5 linked regions of the Homo sapiens genome follow. The protein of the gene in region 2 interacts with the protein of the main gene of each other region in a biochemical or structural test. Each region holds a gene or a part of one and is shown on either strand. Other genes may lie near its edges.

Region 1 (6,347 bases), on a different chromosome or scaffold from region 2:
ACCCAGGAGGCAGAGGTTGCAGTGAACCAAGATTGTGCCATTGCATTCCAGCCTGGGCAACAAGAGCGAAAATCTGTCTCAAAAAAAAAAAAAAAGAAAAGAAAAAAAAATACTGAACTTAAGTTCATGTGTGAGGTAGATATCCTTGAGGTGATTTCAAGAGAGGCTGAGAGAGGATATGTATATATATTCCAGGTAAATGAAACTAGGGCCGCAAAGGGCTGAAGTTGAAGTAATGCTAATGGACATATTCAGGGAACAGCAAATAGTCCAATTGAACAGAATCTTTGGGTATGTTGAGTGAATGATGAGAGAAAAATGAGAATTGAGCTTGATGGTGGAAGCAGAGAATGTCATGCTATAGAGTTAGGTTATAGGCCCTAAAGTCCTGGAAGGTATTTATGCTTTTTGATCTGAGTAGTTACAGGATTGGAGAAGCTGGACTTTAGGAGAATTCTGAAGCACTGAGGATGATGGAGGGGAGGAGGGGAAGAATTCTTTTGTGCTGAGTAGCCGCTATAGCTACCCTATCTAGGAGACACAGGAGCAAAGCCACTCATGTTGTGCTGATATATTGCTGCTAGGGGAGGGGGCTGTCCTTTGTGGTAACTTAAACAAAGCTTCTTAAGGCCTCCTCTCCTTCCAGTTACAGAGGACTCAGGGCTTGGTTGCTGTTTATTGCCCTTCACTGCATGGAATAAGCTCTTTGCCTTCTAGATACTTAGAGGAAGAAGCAGCTGTTTACTATGAATATAAATTCATAGAAATGTGGAGAGACTATATTTGAAGACAGTCTTCTAGTTTTCAGGTGAAATACTGTCTCACTAAAGAAGGTTAATTTTGCCTGCTGCTGTAATAGTCAGTAGTCAGCAAATGTTAAAAGCACTGCAGAATGAAAAACAGGCAAGGATTCATACTAATGAAATCAGTTCTGTTATCTAAGCATTTCCCTAGACTCTAGCCTGTATTTTAAAGTTAAAAGCTGCTTCTAGTTTAATATGTTCTTTTAATTGTTGAATGTTAAAGAATTTTGTATTTTAAGTTACTGGCATGAGATACACAGGTAATGGTTATGGTTATTCTTATCAAATACGGATTAACTGCTTGAAATTATTACGGATAATAAGGTATATATCTAAATAAGTGGGTAATTTGGTGGCCAAACTAAGGTGTAGCACATAGAGAAAAAAAGCTACTTTTTTACCACATTATTCATGAAATTTTCCAAGGTACCCCCTTTACTAAAAATGATTTGCTTATTCTTGAGATACTTCATGGTGAAGTTGTTTTAACTAATTTATTCTGTTAACCTCATTTTCATTTCAGTATCTCTTTATTGGAAATTGTTTTGTAACTGTTTTTGTGATCTTTTTTTTTTTTTTTTTGAAGAGATGAGGTCTTGCTATGTTGTCCAGGCTGGCCTCCAACTCCTGGGCTCTCAAGCAGTCCTAGTGCCACAGCCTCTCAAGTATCTTGTCCTCCTATTTTTGTCTCCTCTTTTAAACTTAAGCATTATGCTTCGGATAGTCTAAAATAATTGATTATATAAAACTGATTCGTTTTGACTCCAGAGTACATTAGGCTAATACTTTCTTATTTGATTTTCCTTTCTAAATAGCCTTGCTTGGCTGGGCACTGTGGCTCACGCCTGTAATCCCAGCACTTTGGGAGGCCGAGGTGGGCAGATCACCTGAGGTCGGGAGTTTGAGACCAGCCTGACCAACATGGAGAAACCCTGTCTCTACTAAAAATACAAAATTAGCCGGGTATGGTGGTGCATGCCTGTAGTCCCAGCTACTCGGGAGTCTGAGGCAGGAGAATTGCTTGAACCTGGGAGGCAGAGGTTGCGGTGAGCTGAGATCGAGCCATTGCACTCCAGCCTGGGCAACAAGAGCGAAACTGTCTCAAAAAAATAATAAATAATAGCCTTGCTTATGCTAATATGATTAATTTACATTTCTTAGTACAGTTTTGTAGTTAAAGTAAACTCCTCATGATAGGCTGTGAGAAGATAATCTTGGATTCAGAAGTTTGTCTAAAAATTCATGGAGGATGAACTTCCTTTGTGCTGGTAAGAGCTGGCTGTAGGGCAGTTGTTTCCAAGTTGTTCCTCTGGCCAGTAGTATCGGTACCACCTGGTAATTTGTTAGAAAGAGATTCTTATCCCTACTACAAATGTGCTGAATAAGAAACTGGGTCTTGGGCCCAGCAGTTTGTTTAACACGTCCTTCAGCTGATTTTGATGCGTGGTAAAGTTTTAGACCATTACTATGGGGTATTATAATAAAAGAGACCCCTTTCTTGATTTCTAGTGAATGGCGTTTGGGACAGTAATTGACTTAGGATTTTTTTTTCTTAATTGACTGGCATGGAAAAGAAATGCTGTTTGTATTCTCAGGTGCAGATTTTGCATCCTGAATGAAAGTAATGGATACTCATAAGTGAGTAATTAAAATAGCATGTAGGAACTTTTATCTTGAAATTTAATTTTCTTTCAGGAGGCAAAACCTTCAACTGAGGACTTGGGGGATAAGAAGGAAGGTGAATATATTAAACTCAAAGTCATTGGACAGGTGAGTTTCATTGTTTTTCTCTTTTGAGTCCCCTTCAATGTGAATACTTTTTCACAGGAAAAAAAATTATTTAAGGCAAATTATTTTAAAATGACTATGTATGCATTTTAATTTACTGTGTATGCATCTGTTAGAGGTAGAAGAGGCCGATACTGTTTTTTAAATTACTCTGCCAGGCAGTTTTAGATCATCTTAATTTTTCCAAATAGGAATGTTTTCTTGGTTAGTGTGCTTCAGGGGCAAATACAGTGAATACTATTAAGTGTTAAGGCTAGGGCCAACCTTAAGTAAAAGGTTTATCAGCCCTTTTCCTGACCCTTTTCTGGCCCCCTATTTCCCTAGACTCTAGTCTGTATCTTTTTTTTTTTTGAGATGGAGTCTTGTTCTGTCACCCAGGCTGGAGTGCAGTGGTGCGATCTCGGCTCACTGCAAGCTCCGCCTGCCGGGTTCACGCCATTCTCCTGCCTCAGCCTCCCAAGTAGCTGGGACTACAGGCGCCCGCCACCATGCCCGGCTAATTTTTTTTGTATTTTTAGTAGAGACGGGGTTTCACTGTGTTAGCCAGGGTGGTCTTGATCTCCTGGCCTCGTGATCCGCCAGCCTCGGCCTCCCAAAGTGCTGGGATTACAGGCGTGAGCCACCGCGCCTGGCTCTAGTCTGTATCTTATTGATTCTGAAATGTTAATTAAGGTTAGCTAACAACCGTTGGAGGAATGAATCTACATAGTTACGTGGGTTTTCTAAAGGACAAAAGACAGAGAATTGGTGGAAGGGTGGACTCGCCCAGGATGGAGTGCAGTGGTATTTCTATTGAAGTGTGACAGTACCATTTCCCTATATTCTCCCAAACATGGGATATTAACAGTCTTTAAATTTTGTTCAAATATGCTAGGTAAAACATTTTTGTTTATTTTTCATTTACCTGATTATTAATAAGGTATAATTTTTTTGGTCTGTTACATTTATATTCTTCTGTTAATTGTGTTCATACCCTTTTCCCATTTTTCTGTGATTATCTTATTTTGAAGACTTTTATTTTTTATTTTCAAAATTTTTTAAATTTAAATTTTATTTTGAAATGGAGTTGTGCTCTTGTTGGCAGGCTGGAGTGCAATGGCGTGATCTTGGCTCACTGCACCCTTCACTCCTGGGTTCAGGTGATTCTCCTGCCTCAGCCTCCCGAGTAGCTGGGACTACAGGTGCCTGCCACGAAGCCTGACTAATTTTTTTAAAAAATATTTTTAGTAGAGACGGGGTTTCCCCATGTTGGCCAGGCTGGTCTCGAACTCCTGACCTCAGGTGATCCCCACCCGTCTCGGCCTCCCAGAGTTCTGGGATTACAGGTGTGAGCCACCATGCCGGCTTTATTTTGAAAACTTTTAAAAGATAAAATTCACATACTATAAAATTCACTATTTTAAAGTATATAATTCAGGGGCTTTAGTATTATTCACAAGTGTGTGCAGCCATCACCACTACTAATTCCAGAACATTTGCATTACCCCAAAAAGACACCCTGTACCCATTAGCAGTCATTCCCCATCCTATTTCCTCCAGCCAGTGACAACCATGATTCTACTTTCTGTCTCTATAGGTTTGCCTTTTGTGGACATTACATATAAATGGAATCATAAGATATATGGCTTTTTTTTTTTTTTTTTTTTTTTGAGGCAAGGGTCTCGCTGTGTCACCCAGGCTGGAGTGCAGTGGCCTGATCTCAACTCACTGCGACCTCAACCTCCTGGGTTCAAGCGACCCTCCTGCCATAGCCTCCTGAGTAGCTGGGATTTCAGGTGTGCACCACCATGCCCAGCTAATTTTTGTATTTTTAGTAGAGATGGGGTTTCGCCATGTTGGCCAGGCTGGTCTCAAACTCCTGACCTCAGATGATCCGCCTACCTCGGCCTCCCACAGTGTTGGGATTACAGGCATGAGCCACCATGCCTAGCTTTGATATGTGACTTTTTATTCTGGTTTGTTTCTTCTTTTCTGCCTTGCTTCCCTGTTCCTCTTCCCCTCCCTCCCCTCCCCCCCTCCCCATCCCCGTCTCCCTCTCCAGGGTTCTCGCTATGTTGCTCAGGCTGGTCTTGAACTCTTGGGCTTAAGTGATTCTCCCTCTTTGGCCTAAAGTTCTGGGATTATAGGTGTGAGCCACTATGCCTGGCCTGGCTTCTTTGTTTTAGCATGTTTTCAAGGTTCATTCATGCTGTAGCATGTATCAGTACTATATTCCTTTTAATGGCTGAATTCTGTTCCATTATATGGGTAGAATATATTTTGTTTTCCATTTATCAGTTGATATTTAGTTTGTCCCCATATTTTGGCTACTATTAATAATGTTGCTGTGAACATTCATGTGTGTTTTTGTATGGACATATGTTTTCAGCTCCCTTGGATATATACCTAGGAGTGGAATTGCTGGGTCTAGTATGCAACTATATGTTTTACTTTTTGAGGAACTGCCAAACTGTTTTCAGCAGTGGCCCTACCATCTTACATTCCTAGCAGCAACATATGAGGGTTTCAGTTTTTCCATATTCTGGTCAACACTTGTAATTATCCGTATTTTTGGTTATAATCCTAGTGGGTGTGAAGTGGTATCTCACTGTGGTTTCAACTTGCTCTTTCCTGATGGCTAATGATGCCAAGCATTTTTTTATGTACTTATTGGCCATTAGTACATCTTCTTTGGAAAAATGAAGTTCTTTAGATCTTTTGCCCATTTTTAAATTGGGTTAGTTGTCTTTTTATTGTTGAGTGGTAATATGTCTTTTATTCTGGGTATTAGACCTTTATCATATATATGATTTGCATGGATTTTCTCCTATCTTTGAGTTGTCTTTTCACTTTCTTGGTTTTATTCTTTGCAGCGTAAAGTTTTTAATTTTGGTAAATTAAGTTCATCTGTTTTTTCTTTTGTTGCTTGTAATTTATCTAAGAAACCATTACCTAATCCAGGGTCACAAAGGTTTACGCTTGTGGTTTAAGAGTTTTAAGGCTGGGCACAATGGCTCACACCTGTAATCTCAGCATTTTGGGAGGCCAAGGTGGGCAGATTGCTTGAGCTCAGGAGCTGGAGACCAGCCTGGGCAACATGGCGAAACCCCATCTCTACAAAAAATATAAAAAATTAGTAGGGCGTGGTGGCACATGCCTGTAGTCCCAGCTACTCAGGAGGCTGAGCAGGGAGAATCACTTGAGCCTGGGAGGTCAAGGCTGCAGTAAGCTGTGATCACGTGACTGTACTCCAGTCTGGGTGACAGAGTGAGACCCTGTCTCAAAAAAAAAAAAAAAAAAGTTTTATGGTTTTATTTATAGTTTTAGCTCTTACATTTAAATCTTTCATCATTTTGAATAATTTTTTATGGGTGTTTGTCCCAGACCATTAGTTGAAAAGACTGTCCTTTTCTCACTGAATTGTTCTGGTATCCTTGTCAAAAAATTGACTATAGATATAAGGGTTTTTTCTTGGCTCTCAATTTTATGCCATTGATCTATCTATATGTCCATATGCCATGGAATGTCTTTTTAAGAATTATTAATTTGTGGGATTTTTAAAAATATTGTCTTCATTTTCCTTGTCTGTTACATGTTATGAATATTTCCTCCAGTATGTCTTAACTTTTGTTTATGGCATCTTTTACTATACAGACGTTTTATGTTTTTATTAAGTCAAATTTATCCACCTCTTTTTTTTATGGTTTCTAGGTTAAAATCATGCTTTGCAATAGGGCATCCCAAGGCCAAAATTAGGGGAAAAAAATTCTCCCTTGA
Region 2 (6,347 bases):
TTTCTATCCTGAGCATTTTATTGAGTAAGCCTGACCTTTTCCTCCTTTGGTGATTAGTTCTGTCACTTTGTGTATGCAAATACCTTTAGCCATTGTTCTGAAACAGTGTGAGTGATTCAGCAGCACTTGCTAAACAGTCATAATCCCTAAACTCCACACCTAGTGACTCTGATTTTGTAGCATGGGAAACTAGAAACTGCTTTTCCAAAAAGGAGTATTGAAGAAAGGCAGGGCATACAAACAGGTTATGCAAACAGGGCATGCAGATAGGTTACTTTAAGAAAGACTGTGTAAAATGTTCTAGAACTGTGGGAATATTGTTGAACTACTTTCCACTGGGCAGAGCCATAGTATGACCTGGCCATTGTGCACAGAAGAGTCCAAATTTATGTACCATACATGAAATTAAGAAGCCAGCAACTACCTGTAAATGTCACGTAACACCCAAGGAGACTGTGTTACTTATCTGCTCACCAGTGGGAGGAGAAGATTGTCTGTCTCAGCTTTGTTAACCAGCTTTCTTGGGATTTCTCCATAGGCAATGGTGGCTTGCTATCCGGGAAATGGAACAGGTTATGTTCGCCACGTGGACAACCCCAACGGTGATGGTCGCTGCATCACCTGCATCTACTATCTGAACAAGAATTGGGATGCCAAGGTACTTTTGAATAATGGGAGTAGAGTGTGGGGTTAGAAACTACAGGAAAATGATTCAGATAACTTAGAGGAGAGTTTATATTGAGTTCATAGTTGCCGTATCTCCCACTGATGAAACATTTCTATTTCCATTTCATAACCTCCTGCGACAATGGAATTAGTCCTAAAGTTGTTAAGAAGAAAACAATGAAGTTAATTTGGAGTGGGGTAGGTAGGGTGATTATTAACCCTACCTCTGGGAAGGGTGGTTGATGAAGGGAAGGTAATTTGATATTAGGATTAAGGATTAATTTTTTTCAGTTTAATTCAGAGTTGTTCTGACTCAATGCAGAATAGGATATACACTTTTCCCTCCCAGCAGCAGCATTGAGAAAGTTCCACAAAAATAGAACTGTAGGCTATAAAACCATCCCCAAGAGAGATTTCCCACACAGTCCTCTCCCTCGGGGTGGTATGTCTCATTGATGGCTGCTTGCCATGGCTTACTATGGTTTGTGAATGCCAAAGGCTTTGTGGCTTATTTTTGTATTATAGAACTTATAGATAGATGGAGATATGAAGCCTGGTTCCATGCTTACAGACATTCATCTGGACTCTGTATGCTTTCCGAAAGTTAAGAATGATTTAGGAGTCTGGGAAGTCAGATAACTTTTCAAGCTTATTTGGCTTTTGAACCTTCTGCATCTCAATTTCCTGTTCATTAGGCAAATACTGGCTGTCATAAAGCAATAATATTTATCCAGAGTCAGAAAAACGAAACTTGGGAAACCATTGAATCAGTGAAAAGGCCTATCTCTTCTCCCTGTTTGGTAACATGACTGGAATACATCCATTAAGTCTCCTTTAAAATCTTGAGAGGTGCTGATAGAGACAAGAGAATAAAGTTATCAGACTGGTAATAATAAATTGCAAGGTCTGGAATCATTTAACAAATATTTGAGTTCCTGCTAGTGTCAGGCGTTGTATTATGAAGAAACATTGATGTGTGAGGCCTGAACTTTACTCTGAATATGGTTATTCTAGTAGGATGAAATAGGTTGACATGTAAAAAAAATAATTCAAGGAAGAGAGTGGTGTATGTCATAAAAGGTGCAGATTAGGTGGTCTGAGAGTTCAGTAAAAAGAGCATGTAACTTCCAACTAATGAGGTCAGATAGGAGCTAAGGGAGTTCAGAAGAGCTGTAAATTCTAATTGAAGGGGAAGTTACATGTGATGATTTTCTTAGAAAGTTGTTAATGGTTAGATGGAACCATGTGAGATCACTGGGCATTTTTTTTTAAGTCAAAAACACTCAAATATTGGCAAATCGGTATGATTCAATCTAATAGTACTCTATTTTACGTCCATGGGCTTTATGACTGTGGGGGGTGGGAGTGCTTTTTTTGGTTTAAGGTGAATAAGGAGATATCTCTAGCTAAGTTTGATATAAAATTTGGTACGAAGTGGCTGGGCGTGGTGGCTCATGCCTATAATCCCAGCACTTCAGGAGGCCCTAGTGGGCGGATCACCTGAGGTCGGGAGTTCGAGACCAGCCTGACCAACATGGGGAAACCCCGTCTCTACTAAAAATACAAAATTAACTGGGCATGGTGGTGCATGCCTCTAATCCCAGCTACTCGGGAGGCTGAGGCAAGAGAATCACTTGAACCAGGGAGGTGGAAGTGGCAGTGAAACGAGATCGTGCCATTGCACTCCAGCCTGGGCAACAAGAGTGAAACTCCATCTCAAATTGGTACAAACTATGAGGTTGAAGTAAAAATCTGGGGTACCATGCATTTGGAGTGGTGGTTAGCAGATGGCATGTTTCTAAATGGAGCTGAAATATGGTTGTTGATAAACTACATGAGAGGTAAGAAATAATCCCCCTTCTTTGTGTCTTTCAGCTACATGGTGGGATCCTGCGGATATTTCCAGAGGGGAAATCATTCATAGCAGATGTGGAGCCCATTTTTGACAGACTCCTGTTCTTCTGGTCAGATCGTAGGAACCCACACGAAGTGCAGCCCTCTTACGCAACCAGGTAATAGCCGGAGCCATGATTCCTCTTCCGGAGCTTGGTGTACAAACCCTAGTTCCAGAGAACTCTTTAAACGTGTGTCCTGTGCATGTGGGGGATTGACCACACCCCATAGCTGATAGCAAACTTGTTTGGAGTCTACAAAAATTAAAGGGGAAACTTTGCGTTCTTTAGCATATCAAACCTAACCTCAGTTTGAAAGTACTATTAACAAGTTGTTTTCTATTAGATGAGCATATTGGATTCCAATTTCTCAAAAGTATTTTTCTCTTCTCTCCTTTCCTCCCTTCTCTTATCTCTCTTTCCCTTTTTTTAAAAAACCTAATGTTGAACTATGCCTAGAGAATGTTGGCTGTCACATATCAGGAATTCTGTCTGGTTACTTTGGATGAGTTTACAAGCTGCTAATTGCAAGCAGAGAAAGAGCCTTGAGAAGAGAAAGAGTAATTTGTTTTGACTTTCTCTTTTTGTCTTTTCCTTGGTTTGAAATTGGCTTGGGCTTGCTGTATCCATGGTCCAACAGTTGGATGTTTTATTAATCTTTTCTTTATCATGTGCACATGAAGATTCTCAGAGTAACTGAACACCTTAGTATTGTTTAGGACCAATCTAGACAATCTTGACAAAAAATCTTCATTCTCAATTCTGCCTCTCATTTACCTTTGTCTGTGTCTAAAGCAATAAGCCGGGCAGCATTGGAGGGCTATGGAGTGCAGCTTATACTGAGACTAGCATTCAGGGGCAGGAGGAGAGAATTTTGGTAGGATGATGATTAAACCCTAACAAGCCTAATTAAATTAAGATCACATGTGCCCTCCTCCGGAAGTCACACAGCTTAGCCCCAAACCCAGTTATATATTAACTGCCAAATCGGAATGTCTTCTAGATGAGCAGGGAACGAATTCTACCACTGAAGTCAGCTTTTGTGTTTTATGGGGTATGTAACTAAACCCTGTTGTTTGTGGCAGAAGTCTTTGGTTATTCCCCAATCTCATGATGACTGGCCTTACAGGGAAAACATTAGCAAATGTTGATGAGAAGTCCCTTGAAAAAAACTCAAGTGCTATAGAAATTGTTAGCTACGGAAGTAGCTAACAATCATTACAAAATGAAACTTTAAAAAAAAACCAAGCATGAAATGGCTCCCATTACAGTCTATCCAATGAATGGGATAAAGCAAATTAGTGGGGATGCAGTAGAAAGCTCTGGGGCATTATTATTATTCAATTGCAATTTTGCCTCAATGTCCAAAACTAAAGAAAGCAAGCCAAGAGTTTTAAACATACTGTGATTTACATAAGTCGTTTTTCAAAGCTTCACTCAAATGTCATCTCTTCTCTATGTTCTCGCCACCAACTTGGGTCTCCCAGTCTTTAGCAGAATGACTCCCTTCTAGTCCTTTCTGTAGAGGCTATGTTTACCTGTTGCATTATTGCAAAATCACCTGTCTCCCCTACTTGGAGCCTGAGATCGCAGAGGAAGATCTGATCACAGGGTCATTTGAATTCCTAATGCCCAAGATAATTTCTGGCACATACCTGGAATTCCTTATGCATTTTATTACATTGAAATAGAATTAAAACCAGAGAAGTTAATTTTAAATTAAAATCAGCGTAGACAGGCCGGGCATGGTGGCTCACACCTGCAATCCCAGCACTTTGGGAGGCCGAGGTGGGCAGGTCAAGAGATCGAGACCATCCTGGCCAACATGGTGAAACCCCATCTCTACTAAAAATTTAAAAATTAGCTGGGTGTGGTAGCGTGCACCTGTAGTCCCAGCTACTTGGGAAGCTGAGGCAGGAGAATCGCTTGAACCTGGGAAGTGGAGGTTGCAGTGAGCCGAGATCACGCCTCTGCCTGGCAACAGAGCAAGACTCCATCTCAAAAAATAAATAAATAAATAAATAAATAAATAAATAAATAAATCAGGGTAGACTTCTAATAATAGAGAAAACTTTAAAACTTTTAATGTGAGATTTATAGGACATTTGTGTTTCTAGTAGTACCATTAAATCTCTTTCCTTATATCTGCTTATCTTTCACAGATATGCTATGACTGTCTGGTACTTTGATGCTGAAGAAAGGGCAGAAGCCAAAAAGAAATTCAGGAATTTAACTAGTATGTGTTTGATAATTTTCTGTGACTTTTGATCAAGTTAATCCTTGACTTTTATTCAATTTTATGTAGTTTTAAACATGTTCTGTTCAATCTGTTACGGCTTAGCTTTATATATAATGACATCTTGATGGGTTTTATCCTGAAACCTTGGCCTTAGGGCTCTTAGAAAAATCAGAAACAATGCAAGGGGCTTCCCCTGAGAATGCCCACTGAATGTATGATGGTTTATGATAGATGGGAAATAGTTAACTTTTTCCTATTAATGTTAACCAGTCAAATGTAACATTAAATTTTGCCCATGATTTTTGGCATATTGCAAAGGAAATATAATGGAACCCAGTTATGATGGCAAAATTTATTATATTGGGTGAGACTGTGACTCTCAGTATAACAGCAGGGCTCATGTAATATAAACTGAATATAACAGCACTACTCCTATCCCTTCCAACCAGTATTAGAAGGCAGCATTTCCCAAAATACGTTGCATTAAAACACAAATCCTGCCAATTTGGTAAATTCCTGGTCCCAAAAATGTGGGAAATGTTGCATGCTGTATGCCTGTCTTAAAAAGAGTCACATTGCTCACTAGCATATTAAATTAAGGCGCTAAGAGATCCTGCAGTAAGGAAACATATATAATATTGCCTAGCCCATAACCCATTTGGACTGTATACCTCTCAAATACCAAAGTGGTCTCCAAATTGCACCCAGGAAATCTCAGTTTGTTTTCTCTTCCAGATGGCCTACACTGCTTAACTCTGATATGTGAGTGAGGCTACACTTCATACAACTTATGCTCAGCATTAGCCCAAGAGGTGCCAATGCTGGATGTAAACCCAAAGTTCCTCCACAGTCTGTGAGGCATATGGGAAAGATCCCATTGCAAAGTCAAGAGAGAATCCTTTGGCAGAGCTCTATTAGGAGGCTTATATAAGATGGGAAGTGTTTACTGGAGGCTTTTTGGTGACATTTGTGACATAAAACTCATCAGAGCTGACTCCATACCCTCTTTATTCTCCTTTCTGTCCCCAACCCAGGGAAAACTGAATCTGCCCTCACTGAAGACTGACCGTGCTCTGAAATCTGCTGGCCTTGTTCATTTTAGTAACGGTTCCTGAATTCTCTTAAATTCTTTGAGATCCAAAGATGGCCTCTTCAGTGACAACAATCTCCCTGCTACTTCTTGCATCCTTCACATCCCTGTCTTGTGTGTGGTACTTCATGTTTTCTTGCCAAGACTGTGTTGATCTTCAGATACTCTCTTTGCCAGATGAAGTTACTTGCTAACTCCAGAAATTCCTGCAGACATCCTACTCGGCCAGCGGTTTACCTGATAGATTCGGTAATACTATCAAGAGAAGAGCCTAGGAGCACAGCGAGGGAATGAACCTTACTTGCACTTTATGTATACTTCCTGATTTGAAAGGAGGAGGTTTGAAAAGAAAAAAATGGAGGTGGTAGATGCCACAGAGAGGCATCACGGAAGCCTTAACAGCAGGAAACAGAGAAATTTGTGTCATCTGAACAATTTCCAGATGTTCTTAATCCAGGGC
Region 3 (6,347 bases), on a different chromosome or scaffold from region 2:
TGAGAAGGTGGGTGCGGAGCTCCAGGCGCAGGGCGGAAACAGGCCCACGAAAGCGCGTGCCCTCAACACTGTGCGCCAAGTCCCCTCTCCCCTCCAGATGCGCCTCCAGGAGGCTGGCCGGAGCCTGGAGGACTCAACTCTCAAACTGTAGCATCTGGGCGCCTCCAGAACCTGCAATCCAGACAGATCACCCCATGTGGATGCACAGCCCTGGCAGCACAGCCATCCATGTACACAGCTTTTCAGCAGCTTCTCGGTGCTCCATGCTTGCACAGAAGTCAGCCTGCGTGAGAGCAGTCAGGGAAAGGCTCACTGTGCAGCAGCCTAGAGAGGAGGGGAGGAGCGCAGAGGAGAACGGACAGGAAGGAGGCAGGAGAACACTCCCAACACAGGCACACACATGCCCACACCCACACATGCCCACACCCACACACATGCACACACCCACACATGCACACCCATGCACACACCCATGCACACACCCACACATGCACACACCCACATATGCACACACGCACACACCCACATACACACACGCACACACCCACACATACACACACACGAATGCACACATGCACACACCCACATACACACACATGCACACACCCACATATACACACAGGCACACACCCACACATACACACACAGGCACACACCCACACATACACACACATGCACAAAGACACGGACATACACACCACACACACCTACACTCACGATTCAAATTCTATGGGAAGTAAAAAATACTACTACCTTCAGAAAACAATCAATTGCTACTGAGGATGGGTGCGGTGGCTCACACCTGTAATCCCAGCACTTTGGGAGACCGAGGCAGAAGGATCACTTAAGCCCAGGAATTCCAGACCAGCCTGGACCACATAAGGAGACCCCATCTCCACAAAATAAAAAAATGAGCCAGGCGTGGTGGCGTGTACCTGGAGTCCCACCTACTCGGGAGGCTGAGGTGGGAGGATCACTTGAGCCCCAGGGCTCAAGGCTGCAGTGAACCATGATCACACCACTGCGCTCCAGCTTGGGGGACAGAGTGAGACCCTGTCTCAAAAAAAATAAGTTGCTACTGAGAAAAAAAGAACACTCAAAGAACAGAAAGAAAAAAGAACTTTTGGAAATTAAAAATCATGACAGAGATGAGAATGTCCACAGGAAGTGGAAAGATAAAGTTGAAATGACCTCCCGGAAAGAAGCCCAAATGCAACAATAAAGCCCAAAGCAAAATGGGAGAAAAATTATCAAATTTAAAATATCTAGGACAATGAGCAGCAGGAGGAACAGGAACTCCAAAAAGAGGGAACAGAGTCTGGAGAAGGATACAAATTATCAGAGAACTAACATAAGGCATATTTCCTGAATAAAAATAAACGTCCAGACCCATAAAGTGCCCAGCAGCATGAGTGAGAAAATCACCCACCTCTGAGGCACATAAGGAAACACTGAATGCCAGAATATGGTCCCAGATACTTCCAGGGAAAAACCAAGTTACAAACAAAGCACAGAGAATCAGAATCCACTGAACTTCTCACCTTTTTTTTTTTTTTTTTTTTTTTGAGACAGGGTCTTGCTCTGTCACCCAGGCTGGAGCAGTGATATGACCTCAGCTCCCTGCAGCCTCCACCTCCTGGGCTCAAACAATCCTCCCACCTCAGCCTCCTGAGTAGCTGGGACTATAGGCTTGCACCACCACACCTGGCTAATTTTTTTAATGTTTCGTAGAGACAGGGTCTCCCTGTGTTGCCCAGGCTTGGCACTGAACTCCTGACCTCAAGTCTTGAATTCCTGACCTCAAGTGATCCTCCCACATCAGCCTCCCAAAGTGCTGGGATTACAGGCATAAGCCACCATGCCTGGTGAACTTTTCACTTTTAACATTGGGAGCTATTCTCATGGCTGACCTCTGAAATAAAAAAGAAAAAAAAGTTTCAACCGAGAATATTACGTGCAGCCACATACTGAAGTGTGAAGGTTTATAAAAGCAAAAGTCACGTTCAGCCATGCAGTGTCTCAAAGACGCTGCCCTTCTGTGCCCGTTCTGACAAGACCCTGGAGGATGTGCTCCACCACAAAACACAAAAGGGAGGAGGACTAATCCAGGAAACACCCAAGAGAGAACCCAAGTTTCTAGAAGGATTTGAACAGGAGGCCCTGGACCACGGCTGAGCAGCCAGCCTCACAAGCAGCAGTGCAGGTGGGGCAGGAGGGGAGCTCCGGGAGAGCAGGGGGAAGGGCAGAGCCCCCCCCACATGTACACGGCCCCACACGCCTGCCATCCCGCAGCGCAGAGGAGAACATGGGCACCCGGGAAGTCACACACACAGTGGCCACGAGCCCAGGCAGTACAAACTCCAGCAAGGGCCAGGGCCCAGCATCAGGCAGAGGCTGGATCACGGGGCCTACACGGCGCCAGGCCACTCACTCTGCTGGGAAGACCGGGACCTGCGTGTCTGGAAGCTCAGTCTCACCTTTCGCAGGTGAAAATAAGATCTGCCCTCAGCAAACACAAAGAAAGGAAGTCAGGGGCTGCTTGCCAATAAAGAATGCAAGGCAGTCGCCAGTGACTGCCCCTATGAGCAGGGTATCCAAAGTGGGAGGGAAAGAGGAGGAAATCTAACTGAAAATCCACAGGCAAAAGAGTAAAATAAAAGGGCAACGAGTTGCTGTATTTTCAAAGCGGCTGAAGAAAAGCAGCCTCTAGGTCCCACTCAGGCAAGCAGGGCTCCCTGGGGAAGGGCGCCTGGCTGCAGGGCCGGGCCCCCAACACACCAGGCAGCAGCTGGTGGGCAAAGCCCATAAAAGTGGCCTAGAGAGGGACCCCCTGGCCCAGGGTGAGTCCGCCACAGCGTTACCAAGAACAACAGACACACACACACCACGTCACAAACAGCAGCCAGAAGGCATCCACCCAGCTGGGCACTGCCAGTGGGGCAGCTCATTATCCTGAAACTGGGGAAGAAGGGGAAAGAATCACGCGCTTTCTTGCCTTTCCTAACAAAATGGAAAACCACACCGCACATGAGGGCAGTGTCTCTCCAGGGTCAGGCCAGCTCATACGCGAGGACAGGGTGACAGCGGCGTGGGGCACACGCCACCTGCAGCCCCAGAATGGCCAGACCTGAGCAGGGCCCCCAAGAGCCTTCAGCATCACAGACTTCACAGATGTTAGTACCCCATGGAGAACACAGCACCCCGGGCAGCCGCCCTGTCAGGAAGAAAAACCCACCACACTTCTCCGAGCCTCTAGGTCCCTCCACCTTATAAAAGGCCATGGGGGACAAGCCCAGCCTGGACTAATTTTACAGCACAAGCCCCCGCCTGCCCATCCACGAAGAGGGCACCTCGGGCAGCTGCATCTGGGTCCAGCCCCGAGACGCTCGTGCTCTGGGGATGCCTGGAACGCACAGGACCAGTGCGCACACGGGGAGGCTCTGCGGGGGAGCAAGGTGCCGCACCTGCCTCTCGCAGTAGGCCTTCATCAGCTTGCTCAGCGGCGTGTGCCTCTTGATCTTGAACTGCACCACGGAGCCGTCCTGCCCGGCCACCTTCAGGTTGATGTGGTCATTCTCTGTCTTCACACCCTCCTGCAGAAGACACCAGAGACTGGCCTCAAAACTGTGTCTCAAAATAACCGCGACTTGAATGGGCAAGTCTTTAGGTAATTGTTGGCTTTTTAAAGTCATCAAAACCAACCTAATTCTTAAAATTCTCCAGCAATTCAGAGTCACTCGTGATGGTTTTATTTTTACACAGAATTTATTTTTAACTTCCACTTGTTAAGCATCCATGTGTAAAACAATGCAAGCCTAGGGTCCTCTGACATTGTTAATTCAAAGAAAAAAACAAAGTCTAGGGAAAAATAAGAGAAAATCCATCTTTATTTTAAAGTTATTCTTGTGGGCTGGGCACAGTGGCTCACACCTGTTATCCCAGTACTTTGGGAGTTGACGTGGGAGGATGGCGTAAGCCCAGGAGTTTGAGACCAGTCTGGGCAACAGAGCAAGACCCCATCTCTTTTTTAAAAAATTCTTATGAAACCAGTAAAAACACATATCCAAAAGTCATGCAGCTATACAGCACTAGTAAAAGAAACCAAAAACAGAAGAAAACATTTGTGACTCAGAGGAACCCTATGGGACATTCAAGTGGTGATTTCGGGAATCCAACTGAGGACGGCCACTCCCCACAGCAGGCGGCCAGGCTCCTTCTCGCTGCCCTGACATCAGCAAATGTGAGGGAAGCCACCTCCGAGTACTTTCTGGTTTCAAACTGTCCTATCTGAGCGGCAGTAGGTGGTACTATTTTATTTTTTAATTCATGCCATACTTGAAGCTACTCAACAATGGCACAATCGGGGTGTCTTGTTGCCTGAAAATGCATTTTGAGTTGAGGCAAAAAGCTGATGTCAAGAGACTGGGAGCCAACTTCGGGGCAGCTCAGTCTGAGCCGAAAAGTGGGGCACCCCTCTGCCGGCCTGCACTGCTGGGATAAAGTCGTTTGTGAGTGAAGCAATGAGGCAGGGCCCTCCGGCTCACTCTGAAAGTCAAGTCTGGGGCGTCCTGGTACCCTTTCACCCCATGCTGAGCTGCTGCCCTCAGGAAGCACTGTACATCACACGCCTGTTCTCTCCACTTCTCCTTTCCTTCCCTGGCTGGGAGAGGGACAACTGTCCCAGCGATGCCTAAATACAGGGAGTGGGATGTAGAAGGCTCGCCTGAGGGTGAACCCAGGGACTGCACCCATGCTTGCTTCCCTGGGGTATGCACCCTGGGGAGACCCTGGGGAGGCATGGTGCTCTGTCAAGGGAGCTAGAGTGGCCTGCAAGGGGCCTTGGCAGTGAGGGGCTCCAGCTGCGAGCCTGAAGGTGCGTGTCCTGGGGCGGCACTCACCCCCCGACTCCAGTCTTGGGCCAGACACCCCTGCCCACTCCCGGGATGCCAGTGGCTTGGCGGCAGCCTGAGTGGTGAGCTGGCACACCCCCATCTCCCCATCCCGAATGTGGCCTCCAGCACAGAGACAACTGGCCTAGGAAGGAAGAGCATGCAAACAGCTCCAGGCAGGATGGAAGTGGGGACCCCTGCATGAGCCCCCTTCACTTCCCCAAGCATGAGGATGCACTGGCTTCTTTAGGGAAGGAAGGTATGAGTGTGTTCAAAGGCACAGATGCAGGGCCCAGACGTCCCCCACAGGGTAATGGCTGCAGCCCCGGGGGGAATGGCTGCAGCCCCGGGAGAGGCTGGGGCAGGGCAGGGCCGGCCACAGTGCCTCTGCTCCAAACAGAATGACGATCTGTCCCAGACCCCTGGTGAATTCCTAATAAGCAAGTGAACTCGTGAGTTAAAAAGTGAAGCCCTAAAAACATGGGCCTCAGTTTGCTACAGTCAATCCTCCACCTCAGCTATCCAGGGAAGTCAGAACCATTCTCCTGCCTGACCTAAAAGCTCTTCTTTCCAGCACCACCGGGCCCCAGAGTCCACCTCTTCCCCTTCGTCAGAGCCCCAGAGGGCAGAGCTGCTCCCACATGGGCTCAGAGGGGACCCACCAGAAGCGGGGCCTGTGAGGTGGCAGCCACTCAGTCATTCTGGAATTAAACAAGTGTTTTCAACGGAACTGGAGCCTGAGATTGACCACATGGCAGAGCTAAGTGTAAATACTGCTGAGAAAATTAATATCATATGTATTTTATTACATTTACTCTTCATTAAGAGGAAGCCACCTACAAAAACATAAAGGACATTTATATTTGACCTAGTTTTAACAAGTATTTAAATATTCAAACAACCCCAGAGTGGGAGAACTTTGACTTCACTGGAGTCAAAATGTAAAAAGCAAAGGTCACCCCAAATGCCATCTGGATAGGGCAGGTTTCCCTGGAGTCTGACCACAGCAAGCAGAGTGCAGACTTCCATAGAGGCCGCGACCATGGTTCCTGACGGTTCCATCCCACTTCCCGCCAGTGTCTGGCACTGAGCCTCCACCCTCATCTGTAAAGGGAGGGTGGTCACCTCCAGGACCAGGCCAGTATCAGAGACAGCCTCTTTACAGAGCCTTCAGCTCTAGTCATCTTCCACTGGGATGTAACATAGAGGCCGACAGTGCACACCAAGGGCTTCGGAAAGGTTCTCTTTTTATGAACACTGGAGAATGCGACTACAGACCCTCCCGAGAAGGAATGGCCAGTGCACCTGAATGCAGGGTGCATACCCCAGGACTGAGACTGGAGGGAGGCACACCCCAGCATGGCAATGGGGGAGACTAAAGCCCACCCAAGGCTGGATAAGGAGGGGTGGGCGCGCATGGTGGGGGAGGCGCAATGCAGAGAAGTGGGCGCACACCGT
Region 4 (6,347 bases), on a different chromosome or scaffold from region 2:
AGAGCTCTTTTGACATCTTGGCTCTGCGTCTTTTTTTTTTTTTTTTCTTGAGATAGGGTGTTGCTTTGTTATCCAGGCCGGAGTGCAGTGGTGTGATCATGGCTCACTGTAGCCTTGACCTCCTAGACATAACCCACCTCAGCCTCACAAGTAGCTGGGACCCCAGGCACGCACCATCATGCACAGTTAATTTTTGTGTTTTTTGTAGAGACGAGGTTTCGCCATGTTGCCCAGGCTCATCTCAAACTCCTGGCCCAAACTGTCCTCCCACCTTAGCCTCCCAAAGTGTTTGGTTTATAGGCATGAGCCACTGTGCTTAGCCTGAGTCCCTCTTTTAAACAAACAAAATGGTAAATGGAAAGGAGGAAAGGCTTAAGAAAAAAGATTGAAGCCAGGATTTGTTGTAAGCAAGGAGTAATAAAGGGCAGTTCATTTAGAGAAAGGCATATGACCACCTTTCCCCCTCCAATCAGAATCTAGAAAGTGATTGAGGCCGGGCGCAGTGGCTCACGCCTGTAATCCCAGCACTTTGGGAGGCCGAGGTGGGCGGATCACGAGATCAGGAGATCGAGACCATCCTGGCTAACATGGTGAAACCCCGTCTCTACTAAAAATCGAAGAAGTTAGCCAGGCGTGGTGGTGGGCGCCTGCAGTCCCAGCTACTCGGGAGGCTGAGAGGCAGGAGAATGGCGTGAACCTGGGAGGTGGAGCTTGCAGTGAGCCTAGATAGTGCCACTGCACTCCAGCCTGGGCGACAGAGCAAGACTCTGTCTCAAAAAAAAAAAAAACAAAGCGATTGAGAAAATCAGGTCTGTGTGACCTTAGCAATGAGTTATTTAGCTTGGGCCACTGTTAGCTTAAGTCAATAACTTCAAGTTTGCGTTGTAGTTGGAATCAATAGAGGAAAAGCTCTCAGCATTACCACATATATCAGAATGTGACATTGATTGCCAGACCAGCCTTATCCAAACACAAGTCCTAGGCTTTTTGCCCTGTTTATGAGCTTTATATGCTGAGGGTATTTGATGAGTCTTAGGGAAAAAAGAACAGCCCTGGGGACACAGCTGCTTTTATGATGAGACATGTTTGCACCCATACCTTAATGGGTTTTGGTGGCAATATTCTGAAATTTGCCACCTACATTTCAAAGATTTGCCCTTTGGGTGAATTAGTGCTGTAGTAGAAGTGGGTGGAGGCTGAGGAGGTTGGATTAAGCAGGTAGAGGATTTCTCAGTGCATGGATCGTGCTGAGGATGGAGATAGAGCTCTAAGACATCCACGGGCCTTTCCTGAGTGATCAGCTTTGGCTCCTGGGCAGGGGAATTGGAGCTGGATTCTAGTGTGGGAGCACGCTTGTCATCTTCCTTCTTTTCCCCCAGTACCATGCGGAGACCATCAAGAATGTGCGCACAGCCACGGAAAGCTTTGCTTCTGACCCCATCCTCTACCGGCCCGTTGCTGTGGCTCTAGACACTAAAGGACCTGAGATCCGAACTGGGCTCATCAAGGGCGTGAGTATTCTGCGGAGAGCGAGGGGAAGGCTCAGTAGGCAATATGCCCCAGAGACATGTCCTCCAAAGCGCTGGGTTGCCATGTTTCTTCCCAGTACTATGAAGGACTGCAGAGGAGTTGAGGTCTACAAATGAGGATTTATTCATCACTGTAAACAATGTTGATTTGATCTACTTTGCTAGGAAATGGTACCACAAAGGAACCTTTTTTTTTTACCCTAAAAACCTAAACTTTAGGCTTTCTAACTTGGAGAACCATCTCTTTGTATCTTTTTCCCCATCATTAAGTAGCATAACTGAAACATATTCTTTTCTTGGATTATTTCCGTGAAGTATACAGAGTTAGAGAATAAGAGCAAAAAACTGTATTACTTTTAGCAGTGACTTGAGCATTGTTCCCGGGAGGAAAGAGCTTTTCCATTCCTTCTGAGGTGATGCTGCTACTGGTGTCTCCAGTTTGGACTCTTGCTTACTCTCTTGTCCCTAGAGCGGCACTGCAGAGGTGGAGCTGAAGAAGGGAGCCACTCTCAAAATCACGCTGGATAACGCCTACATGGAAAAGTGTGACGAGAACATCCTGTGGCTGGACTACAAGAACATCTGCAAGGTGGTGGAAGTGGGCAGCAAGATCTACGTGGATGATGGGCTTATTTCTCTCCAGGTGAAGCAGAAAGGTACGTATGGGAGCTGGAGTCCAGTTGTCTAAAACAGTCTTTTGTCTCTAAACTTCCTTGACACAAGGAAGATGGGAAGGTTGGTTGCCTGGCAGTGAGATTGAGTCTGTGTGTTCTCAGGAATCCCTTTTATAACTCATTTATCCTCAAAGATAGGCTTTAATCCAGCATAGTTACATTCTTCTGGTTCTGGAGAACACAGGAACATACATACATATATATATATATATACATATATATATATATATATATATATATATATATATATATATATATTTGTTTCGCTGTGTTTTGTTTTGTTTTCAAGACAGAGTCTCGCTCTGTTGCCCAGGCTGGAGTGCAGTGGCATGATCTTGGCTCACTGCAACCTCTGCCTCCAGAGTTCTAGCTATTCTCCTACCTCAGCCTCCTGAGTAGCTGGGATTACAGGCACCCGCCACCACACCCGGCTAATTTTTTTGTATTTTTAGTAGAGATGGCGTTTTGCCATGTTGGCCAGGCTGGTCTCAAACTCCTGACCTCAGGTGATCTGCCTGCCTTGGCCTCCCAAAGTCAGAACAGTCTTAATTATCCTTATTTATGGGTGAGGAAAGTGAGGTACAGAGAGGTTAAATGGCTTGCCCAGGATTACACAGTGTAGTAGGTTTTCAACTCTGGTAAAACAGCTCCAGCACCCATAATGCACCACTTCCCAGCTCACTGTCCTTGCGGGAAAGGTGCCTGCTTCCTGTTGACCTGTGCCCTCGTGCTCTGCCTCCCCTACTTACCCTTTTTCATACAGGTGCCGACTTCCTGGTGACGGAGGTGGAAAATGGTGGCTCCTTGGGCAGCAAGAAGGGTGTGAACCTTCCTGGGGCTGCTGTGGACTTGCCTGCTGTGTCGGAGAAGGACATCCAGGATCTGAAGTTTGGGGTCGAGCAGGATGTTGATATGGTGTTTGCGTCATTCATCCGCAAGGCATCTGATGTCCATGAAGTTAGGAAGGTCCTGGGAGAGAAGGGAAAGAACATCAAGATTATCAGCAAAATCGAGAATCATGAGGGGGTTCGGAGGCAAGTCCCCGTTGTCCCTGCTCCAGTCCCAGCGCAGCTCTCCGAAGGGCATGGTCCATCCTGTGAATGTCTGATTCCCAGCCCCTAGCCCATCAGAATGTAGACTCCCAAGCCAGTTCCAAACCTGCTGAATCAGAATATCTTAGGAGAGTAGAAGGCATTATGTTTTTTTGTTTTTGTTTTTTTGTTTTTTTTAAAAAAAAGCTTCCCAGGTAATTGAGATGCTGGCAGCTTGACATTGTTCCCTGGGCCTGGGGACCAACATTTGAGAGAACAGGGTCACTGCTCACAGGACCAGGGGCCATGATGTTCTGTTCCTGATCAGAAACACTACCAGTGTTTGCTGGAATGGGGGGACCAGGGGGAAAGATGACAGCAGACACTTAAGAAAGGGCTCTTTTTGGCCCTTCCTGGGGAGCCATGTGGAATTTCAGGGCCTGGTGTCCATGTTAAAGCTTATGGCCTCCTGGTCTTCACTTAGAATGCAGCTGGCTCAGTGATCATGCTAACTCTGGTATGGTCCATTCCACTCTCAGAGGAAGATGTGTGGTTCTTCTCCAGTTTCAGATTGCCCCAACTTAGCTTACCCCCTCCCCAATGCTCACAAAGTAGAGCCCAGTGGGCATGGCCACCATTTTTGGCATCCTGCTAGGAATACAACTCAGCACAACTAAGATGCTAGACACACTCTTGTGGATTAGAAGTGTGTTTGGGGAGGGTGGGGGAGCAACCCTGTGCACCCACTGTAGTGGCCTTACTGTCTGAGCTTTGTGTAGATATCCTCTGTACCAGGCAATTTGGGGTCCTCCCCTTTGCCATCCTGATAAGCCATAGGCTAGCTGAACTTGGCCCTAGGCCAGGCAAAGCCACATTCCCTCTTGCCTTCAGCAGGTTGGAGTGGGCCACCTCAAAGGGCAGTCCTCAAGTGTCCTTGACTAGATGAGGCCATGGGTCTTTGTGGTGGAAGCAGTCATCAGGCCTCAGGTTCCCTGTCTTGAAGTGCTGATTGGAAAATGGAGGCCCTAGAGAGACCCCTAACATGCATGGGATTTGGAGAGGAGACCTTGGGAATGAGCCCATTTGGATTTGCCCTCTCCCCTTTCTTCCGTCAATGAAGCATCCATATTGGTGTTGAAGCCCAGCAGGCAGAATTGTTGGCCCACTCTGGGGGCCTAAGGTAGCTGGACTGCCTTGCCATCTGTGTGCACCCATGATGATATCATGGATGTCTGTCCTGGTACAAGGACATCTAAGTTAGGGAATCCCAGGGAAACTTCTTGTCTACTGCCATACTTGTGGCCTCTGTTCTATATAACCTCTCTCCCCCCAACTTTGTCCATCAGGTTTGATGAAATCCTGGAGGCCAGTGATGGGATCATGGTGGCTCGTGGTGATCTAGGCATTGAGATTCCTGCAGAGAAGGTCTTCCTTGCTCAGAAGATGATGATTGGACGGTGCAACCGAGCTGGGAAGCCTGTCATCTGTGCTACTCAGGCATGTGCCCACCCTTCCCCACATTCTCATGTGCACACTCGCATGTTTGTATGGGAAAGCTCTGGAGGCTGTCTGATCTCTTCCCATGGAATTGTCGCACGTAACACACAGATAATCCCCTTCCCCCATGTACCTACACAAAGCCATACTCTGTGTACCTACTCACTATCCAGAGGATCAGCTTGCTGTCATTTGTCTCTGAAGACAGCTCAAGCTACATCTCACTAATGCTCTGTCCCCTCCCAGATGCTGGAGAGCATGATCAAGAAGCCCCGCCCCACTCGGGCTGAAGGCAGTGATGTGGCCAATGCAGTCCTGGATGGAGCCGACTGCATCATGCTGTCTGGAGAAACAGCCAAAGGGGACTATCCTCTGGAGGCTGTGCGCATGCAGCACCTGGTGAGTTCTGGGGCCTGCCCCATCCCCCAGGGCTTCGGACTGGGCCTGGGATGGATGCAAGCTCTGGTGCAGAGCTTTTTAGGTTTCTCCATCCTCTTATGCACAGCCTTTCATTATCCTCCAAGTTACAGCAGCAAGAGGGTGGGGGTGGAAGTGGAGGTGGCTTTTTTTTTTCTCCTGTTCTGCATTCCTGCCCACACCCCCACCCCTCCATTTCCTTCTGCTCTGGAGGCATCCTCCTTCATTGGACACCACACAGTTTATTTCACTTCTGACTTCAAGGTTGTGAATTCTTCCCATGGCTTAAGTCCTGGGATACTTCTGCAGTGAAAGGAGGTCTTGTACCTCTTCCTCAGAGTCAGAAGTTCTGAGTACCTTTGCCCTATTCTGAAAAGGGCTAGGGGCTCCTGCTCCCAGCTGCCCTCTTCCTTTGGCTTCCAATTCAGTTCCCTCTGCCCCGCATCCTGCAGACAGGCGCTCCCGCAGGGGGCCCTTGTGGACCTGCACTGGAGTCTGTTGCCTTCACTGAGCTGCCTGTGCTGGCCTTGCATGGTGCCTGTAGGGGGATTTGCTTTGCTGTGCCATTGGGGTACAGCTGCTGCTCTTACTCTAGACCAAAAAGTCGGGTTGAGTGACTGGTGGCAGGGCCACAGATAGAGACAGCGGGGAGGGTGGCTGACCCTGGCGGCCCTGGACTGAGCGTCTGGAGGAGTCGTGGAGGCTCTTTCCCTTCTTTCTCCTCTGAGAGCTCGTTCTTCAGGCTCTTCCAGCTTGTCATGTCGAGTGCCTGGCCACTGCTCAGGGTTGGAGGCTCAGTCCCTTTGCCCTGTCTGTTCCAGCTCTGGAGCTAACTCAGGGATCCCTGATCAGGGTTACATAGGTTTGGTAAAATGAGTGCTGGAAATTAACTTTCTCCCAGTAGTCTTAGGTCATGCTCAGTGAACTTAAACTTTATCCAGATATGGTTTTCCTTCAGCCTTTCTATTCCCTTTCTAGCCAGTGAAAGACCCGCTGCCCTTTGACCTCAGCCCCTCCAAGCCCCCAAGTTTAAAACGCCACCCCCTGCCACCAGAAAAAACAGAAAAAAAAAAAAAAAAAAAAAACTAAAACACCCATCTGGTCTGGGCATCTTCCTTTCCTTTTTCACTATGTATCCTGTTACTGGGCTTAAACAGCTTTCAGAGAAGAGATGTCATTTCTATTAAATGCTCTTTCAG
Region 5 (6,347 bases), on a different chromosome or scaffold from region 2:
CTAGAGTGCAGTGGCACGATCATGTTTCACCGCAGCCTTGAATTCCTGGGCTCAAGTGATCCTCTCACCTCAGTCTCCCACGTAGCTGGGATGAAGGCATGCGCCACCATGCCTGGCTAATTAAAATTTTTTTTTTTGTAGAGACAGGGTCTTGCTATATTGCCCAGGCTGGTCTCAAACTCTTGGCCTCAAGGGATCCTCCTCCCTCGGCCTCCGAAAGTGCTGGGATTACAGGTGTGAGCCACCATGCCTGGCCTCACTGTGTAGTTGTGAATAGCTTAATAGTTTGCAATGTGGTGCTTCTCACAGCTCTTCTCTGTAATGGGAACATGAAAAATTACCTGGTACAGTTTTATGCTTTGTGGTGTGGCTTTTAATTTTTATAAACATGTCTTACTGCTATTGCCAGGGATTTAGATTTTTAATAAACTTCCAGATTCAACAGTATTTTTCTTCATCTCAATGTCTCATTTTTCATCAAATTTAAACAAAGTTAGATTCTCTGGGCTTGAAACAATTTTGATTCATTTCACTTTAGCTCTGAAGTACTGTTTTGTAAAATGTAGCACAGTGATACTGAACCAAGCTTTTTGAAAGCTTATTCTCTGCAGGGTACATTTAAGAGGACTTGCCTATCAGAATTTTTACATTTCAGTCCCAGAAACTATGTGTAACAATACCTGTTGGATTCTTTAAATCTGGACTTTATTAAGTTGACAGAGGTATTGAAGAATAGATGACCACCCCGAAATGAGGAATAAAGTTTGTTTTGTACAGTTGTTTAAGCATAAAAATAGACAGATATTAATAGTAGTCAGAGTATTCAGTTACCAACCTCTTGTCCCTCCTCACTGAAGATCTGGTGACAACTCTAATCCACGTGGCGTAGAGAGCGGTGCCTTTGGTCTAATCCGAATGCTCCTCCTCTTCACTGGGGGGTTCTGGGGACATCTCACCTGGTTGTGCCCTGGGTTTTGCCCTGAGATGTTAGCCTCCAGCTCTGGGGGCCTTGTCTCAGTCTGGGCATGTGTACTTGCTCAAATTACAGTATCTCAACTTCCATATATTCTGCTTTGGAAAAAACTAACCTACACTTTTATGTATTACATCCTGATACTCTCCAGCAGTCTGTCATATACCAAAACAGGTCTTTTGTGAACCTATCAGTTAACAGACACTTTGAGTTATTGCATGGCCTTGCTCTCTGCCAGCCAGTAGTTCATATTCAACAGCAGTGCCATCCCTGTCTGCAAGGCTGTGTTAGTGCAGCTATTTTTTATACTTCATTTAATTTATTATGCTTTTTCATTTGCTTTGATTTTTAATAAAAGTAAAACAAAAATAAAAGTGCTGATGAGAAGCATTGGTCTTGAAACATTAACACAATTGAGAACAAGATGAAATATAATTTTTTAGGCACATGGAAAGCAGCGAGTCTTTCACCTCATCTGGACATTAATTGGACCTAAGCTGATCTACTCTGTCACTTAGGAAGGAAATGAAAAGTAAGGAACAGTATGATATGTTGGAACCACATGGTCGAAGGCTGGACTTAAAAGAGCAGATGCAAGGAGAGATCTGGCACCACAGATAGAGCATCCCTAATCCCAAAGTCCAAAATCTAAAGGGCTGTAAAATCTGAAGGTTTTTGTACACTGACATGATGCCAGAAGTGGAAAATTCCACACTTAAGTACTTAACACATTGTTCCATGCACAAAATTATTAAGACTATTGTATAAAATTACCATCAGACTATAAAATCATTTATAAAAATTCAGTTGTTTCATATAAGGTATATATGAAACAAATGAATTTTGTGTTTAAGCTTGGGTTCATTAGGAATATGCCAGTATTCCAAAATCCAAAAAAAAAAAAACTGATCCCAAGCATTTTGGATAAGAGATACTCATCATGTATAGCTTAATGTTCTGAGCTGGAACTCCTTTAATAAGGTGGAAGTCAGTTGTTCAGCTCTCAGTTTGACTCTTAAATATGTTTTCAGCAAATGTTCAGCTTAGAGTCTTTGCAGAGAATGTTTGCTTACTCAGTTTCTGTGGAAGGCTTTTCCGTTACCCTGCACAGAGGGCCGTACCCATGACAGCAGATAGGATCGCTGCCTGGGCCTCAGGGGTCTTCCCCTCCCCGGCTTGCCGAGAGGGAGAGAGAGAGAGAGAGAGAGAGAGAGAGAATGAGAGAGAGAGAGAGAGAGAGAGAGAATGAGAGAGAGAGAGAGAGGAGAGAGAATGAGAGAGAGAATGAGAGAGAAACAGAGAGAATGAGAATGGTGGTGGCGGCGACGGCATACAGAGGGTTCATTGTTAAACCTCTGAATGTTACTGCTTTTGACTTTTTAAGTTTTAAACAAGAAACAGGTCATACCATTAACTATCCCTCTGAGTCAGAAAATATAGACCCAAGAGTTGCCTGTTCTAATGTGGCACTACCATAATTTGTTCTAACATTTCCTAATGACTGTCTGTTTCTAATTATTTCATTCAAGATATGCAGTAAGTATCCTTGGGCTACCAGTGAAGTGATACCATTTGTATCTCTTCTTCTGTGCTTTCTCACCACTTGACATTCTTTGCCCATTTTTCTTTTTCTTTTTCTTTTTTTTTTTAGGTAGAGTCTTACTCTGTCACCCAGGTTGGAGTGCAGTGGCCATGATCTCGGCTCACTGCAACCTCTGCCTCCTGGGTTCAAGCAATTCTCCTGCCTCAGCCTCCCGAGTAGCTGGGATTACAGGGGCATGCCACCACACCCAGCTAATTTTTTTGTATTTTTAGTAGATACAGGGTCTCACCATGTTGGCCAAGCTGGTCTTGAACTCCTGACCTCAGGTGATTCGCCCACGTTGGCCTCCCAAAGTGTTGGGATTACAGGCGTGAGCCACCGCGCCCAGCCCCATTTTTCTTCTGCATTGCTTTCTTATTGATTTATAAGAGCTTTTTATCTATTAGGTATCTTTACTCTTTGGTGTATGTGTTGTAGATATTGTTTCCCCACCTCTCTTATCTTTTGGCTTTGTTTATAGTATCTTTTGCCATAAACTTTGAAAACCTTTTAATGTTATTTGCACTGTTCTATTTATACCATGTGACTTTCCTGCATACACTGCTCTTTTTGCTACATGTATCCCATGGTGTTTTGGAGTTTTTGTTGCTAATGTGAATGGGATTTTTTTTCCTTTCCACTGCAACTGGATATAGCTAACATAGAGAAAAGCTATTGACTTGTGTATTCTTGTTCGTTTCCAGACAACTGGCTAAATTTTATCCAGTGTTTAGTCTGTTGAGCTCTCTAGGCTACATCTCCAAATCTATCTCCATCTCTAGTCATAGCATCTCCAAATAAAAATAATTTTATCTCATTTCAGTACTATTTATTTCATTTCTTTCTTTTATAGTGCAGTGAACTAGATGTCTGTCAAAGTTATTCACCCTCTCTTGAGGGTAAAATCATGTCCTTCTTGCCATCTGAGCTGCAGGCGGGTGCCTCCTCATGTGACATCATCACGTTGCCTCCTCACAGCAGAAGCTCTTGGTATCAAATGCTTCCGTAGCCAGTGTTGTGCAGTCTGCTTTCTTCCAACTAGATTCTGAGCTCTTTAAAGTTGGGGATCATGCCCCTTATTTTATGTCCCTCACAGAACCTCCCAGAGAACTGGGCATGTAGTAAGTCTGTGTAGGGCTGTCTGTATGTGTGGGAGGTGTCCCTGTTCTCCTCTTCTGCCTCCCCGCTGCTTCCTGGAAGCCAGTTCTGACCTCTTGGGACTGTCGATCATATGACCATAGGACTCTGTCCCCAAGGGCCCTTCCTCCTTGCCCACCCTATAGAATTTAGATTTTTGAGCCTCTAGACCAAAGAAACTTCCCTTCTCAAAACTTTATTGGCGTCAGCATCACCTGGAGAGTTTGTTAACACAGATCGTGGGGTCATCCCCAGAGACTTGAATCCAGAGGTCTCAGGTGGAGCCCGAGAATTTCACATTTTGAACAAGCTTGTTTGCTGCTGGTCCAGGTAGTATAGTTTGAGAAGCACTGCTCTAGGCTGCAGTTGGTGACCTCATGGATGCAAGGCAAAGAGTGCTTTGCGCAAGTAAGCCAGATTCCTGTGGAAGTTTAAGCCTCACGTAGCAGGGCCCCTGCCCTCCACCCTGAGGTATTGCGCTACAAGTCAGAGTATGTTTCAGGGGCATGCGGCATTTATCTTTTGCAGGATAGGAGATTCTGTCATGAAAAGCATTTTTTAGGCCTAAGAAAAACTCACCCCCCTCTTCCTCAGCCTCTGCGCTTAGATACCTTCATGAAAACAGAATCATCCATCGGGATCTAAAGCCAGAAAACATCGTCCTGCAGCAAGGAGAACAGAGGGTAAGTGACCTCCTGGGACTGGGAAAGCCTCAGGTGGGCGTGCCGGGAAGTGGCCTGGGAGGAAAGGAGCACACTCTGCATATTTGTGTGTATTTGCATTTCCTTGCCTGTGCTTTGATTCTCTGGGAATGCTGTTTGATTTGAAACAAAATTGAGCAAAAAAGTTGTTGCAGATTGAGGCAAGTTTAAATGGATTACATTGTTAGTTGCTCAAGTTGCAGGAATCTGATAAGGAAAATAATGTTTGCCTTCCTACCTCCACCCCTAGCCTCTGGGACTAGCGCTTCTTGGAAGTCGACTTTTTGTTTTCCATTTGCTTTAAGAGCCTCGCCTCTCGACTCTAAATGGAAACCAGTGGTCAGTTGGTTGTGGATGTGGCTGGGAAGAGGCACTGGGAGCTGGCCTCTGCTGCCAAGCCTGGTCCAGCCTATAGTTTCCCCAGAGCTCTTTGTGGCCTCCTCAGTGGCCACCCGGCTCAGACGTGGTGTTGACTGCCCCACAAGCTTGACATTGTGGTCTTTACCCACCCACTCTATGTGTTCAGCTGGGGTGGTGAGCACAGGCTCAGCTGAGTGGAATACAGTGAATGAGTTCTTAGATCACCTAATCCCTTCCCATACAGCTGCCCTTAGCACCTAGGCCTGGCCTGTGACTACCACAGGGCTCGCCCTTGTTCCAGTTCACCCTCACTCCTGTCAGTGGTGCTCAGATTTGAGAACTGAGGGCATTTACTGAGAAGAGGCTGGCCCGGTCCTTCCTGTTTCAAGTCTGGGTTTAGCTGTCTTGAGGGCTGGTGCCTGTTCTGTTCATTCAGCTTCCCTCTGATGATGCGTGGCAGAGTGTGGGAGGACACGTGCCTAGCATTTTTACAATATGCCTTTTCTTTTAGCCCTGAATCTACCGTGTCGAGGGCATTCTTTTGTGTATCTGGTGGCTCTTAGGAGTTTGGGATCTAATAGTACCTGGGAATTCAGAAATACCTCTGCTCTAACACCAGGCAGTCAGAATCCTCGTAGAAGGACATTGTGTTCTTATAACCCTCAGCTTTCTCCTTCCTTTTGTTTTAGTTAATACACAAAATTATTGACCTAGGATATGCCAAGGAGCTGGATCAGGGCAGTCTTTGCACATCATTCGTGGGGACCCTGCAGTACCTGGTAAGAAGTGGGCCTTGCCTGTTTGCCTGTCAGCTCCTCCCTGCTGCTGCATTTGTGGGGCTCCTGTCCTGCCTTGCTCCCAGCACCTGAGTCCCACCGGCTCTCTGAATGTTTTGGAGATGCATGAGGTCACACCCATAACCTGGTCGAGTCAGCATTTTTTGCCACCAGATGCCCTGTGGAGGGATGTGGTCGTCTTCTCTGATGTCCGGAGGGCTCTGCTCATGCGCCTTGCACCATCCCCTAGCCTCTCTGTGCTTCAGTGTCTTCTCTGAAAGGAAAGGGTTTTAAACAGATCCATGCTGGTCTTGAGCGGTCCTCCCACCTCAGCCTCCTGAGCAGCTAGGACTACAGGCAGGAGCCACTGAGCCTGGCCGAGGCCACACTTTCCATGAGGTATTTCAGGGGCCACTGAGTAGGGGTCAGAGCTCTGAGCTCCCCACCCTTTGTTTACGTTATTTGGTCTGAATATTAGGTTTCTGTTTGAGTCACTCATTCATTCAAGCATATTGATGGAGTGTAGTCTGTGTCAGGCACTGTGCTCAGGGCTGGTGATGCAGTGGGGAAAAAAGACAAGCCCTTTTCGGCCTTCAGAGCTTAGGGTTTAGCAGGAAAGCAAGCATTACTGTGATGCTTACACAGATAACTAAGAAATTACAGTTGTGGTGAGTGTTACAAAGCAAGAGTGCAGGGTGTTGCAAGAATATATATTGGGTGGCCTCAGCCTGGTCTGGGACTTGAAGGGTAAGGAGGTGAAAAGGGCTGGAGGTGGGGGACGGCAGGGGGAATTCCGTGCAAAGGGATCACACACAGGA

The links.
Region 1: of the proteins of EGLN3 (region 2) and SUMO1, one has a biochemical effect on the other in vitro, tested with the Homo sapiens proteins (one study listed by BioGRID).
Region 3: of the proteins of EGLN3 (region 2) and SUMO3, one has a biochemical effect on the other in vitro, tested with the Homo sapiens proteins (one study listed by BioGRID).
Region 4: the proteins of EGLN3 (region 2) and PKM form a complex in vitro, tested with the Homo sapiens proteins (one study listed by BioGRID).
Region 5: the proteins of EGLN3 (region 2) and IKBKB form a complex in vitro, tested with the Homo sapiens proteins (one study listed by BioGRID).

Annotation. Positions count from the first base shown.
Region 1 is NC_000002.12:202,216,258-202,222,604, reverse strand, and holds part of SUMO1 (small ubiquitin-related modifier 1 isoform a precursor), read left to right. Parts: intron 1-2,498; coding exon 2,499-2,573; intron 2,574-6,347. UniProt on the Homo sapiens protein: Ubiquitin-like protein that can be covalently attached to proteins as a monomer or a lysine-linked polymer.
Region 2 is NC_000014.9:33,925,407-33,931,753, reverse strand, and holds part of EGLN3 (prolyl hydroxylase EGLN3), read left to right. Parts: intron 1-538; coding exon 539-658; intron 659-2,541; coding exon 2,542-2,678; intron 2,679-4,720; coding exon 4,721-4,794; intron 4,795-5,831; coding exon 5,832-5,863; 3' UTR 5,864-6,347. UniProt on the Homo sapiens protein: Prolyl hydroxylase that mediates hydroxylation of proline residues in target proteins, such as PKM, TELO2, ATF4 and HIF1A. Target proteins are preferentially recognized via a LXXLAP motif.
Region 3 is NC_000021.9:44,810,512-44,816,858, forward strand, and holds part of SUMO3 (small ubiquitin-related modifier 3 isoform 1 precursor), read right to left. Parts: intron 3,594-6,347; coding exon 3,465-3,593; coding exon of another isoform or gene 3,351-3,464; intron 1-3,350. UniProt on the Homo sapiens protein: Ubiquitin-like protein which can be covalently attached to target lysines either as a monomer or as a lysine-linked polymer. Does not seem to be involved in protein degradation and may function as an antagonist of ubiquitin in the degradation process.
Region 4 is NC_000015.10:72,205,511-72,211,857, reverse strand, and holds part of PKM (pyruvate kinase PKM), read left to right. Parts: intron 1-1,379; coding exon 1,380-1,511; intron 1,512-1,998; coding exon 1,999-2,185; intron 2,186-2,966; coding exon 2,967-3,237; intron 3,238-4,580; coding exon 4,581-4,731; intron 4,732-4,977; coding exon 4,978-5,130; intron 5,131-6,347. UniProt on the Homo sapiens protein: Catalyzes the final rate-limiting step of glycolysis by mediating the transfer of a phosphoryl group from phosphoenolpyruvate (PEP) to ADP, generating ATP.
Region 5 is NC_000008.11:42,300,901-42,307,247, forward strand, and holds part of IKBKB (inhibitor of nuclear factor kappa-B kinase subunit beta), read left to right. Parts: exon of another isoform or gene 1-447; intron 448-4,286; coding exon 4,287-4,375; intron 4,376-5,442; coding exon 5,443-5,532; intron 5,533-6,347.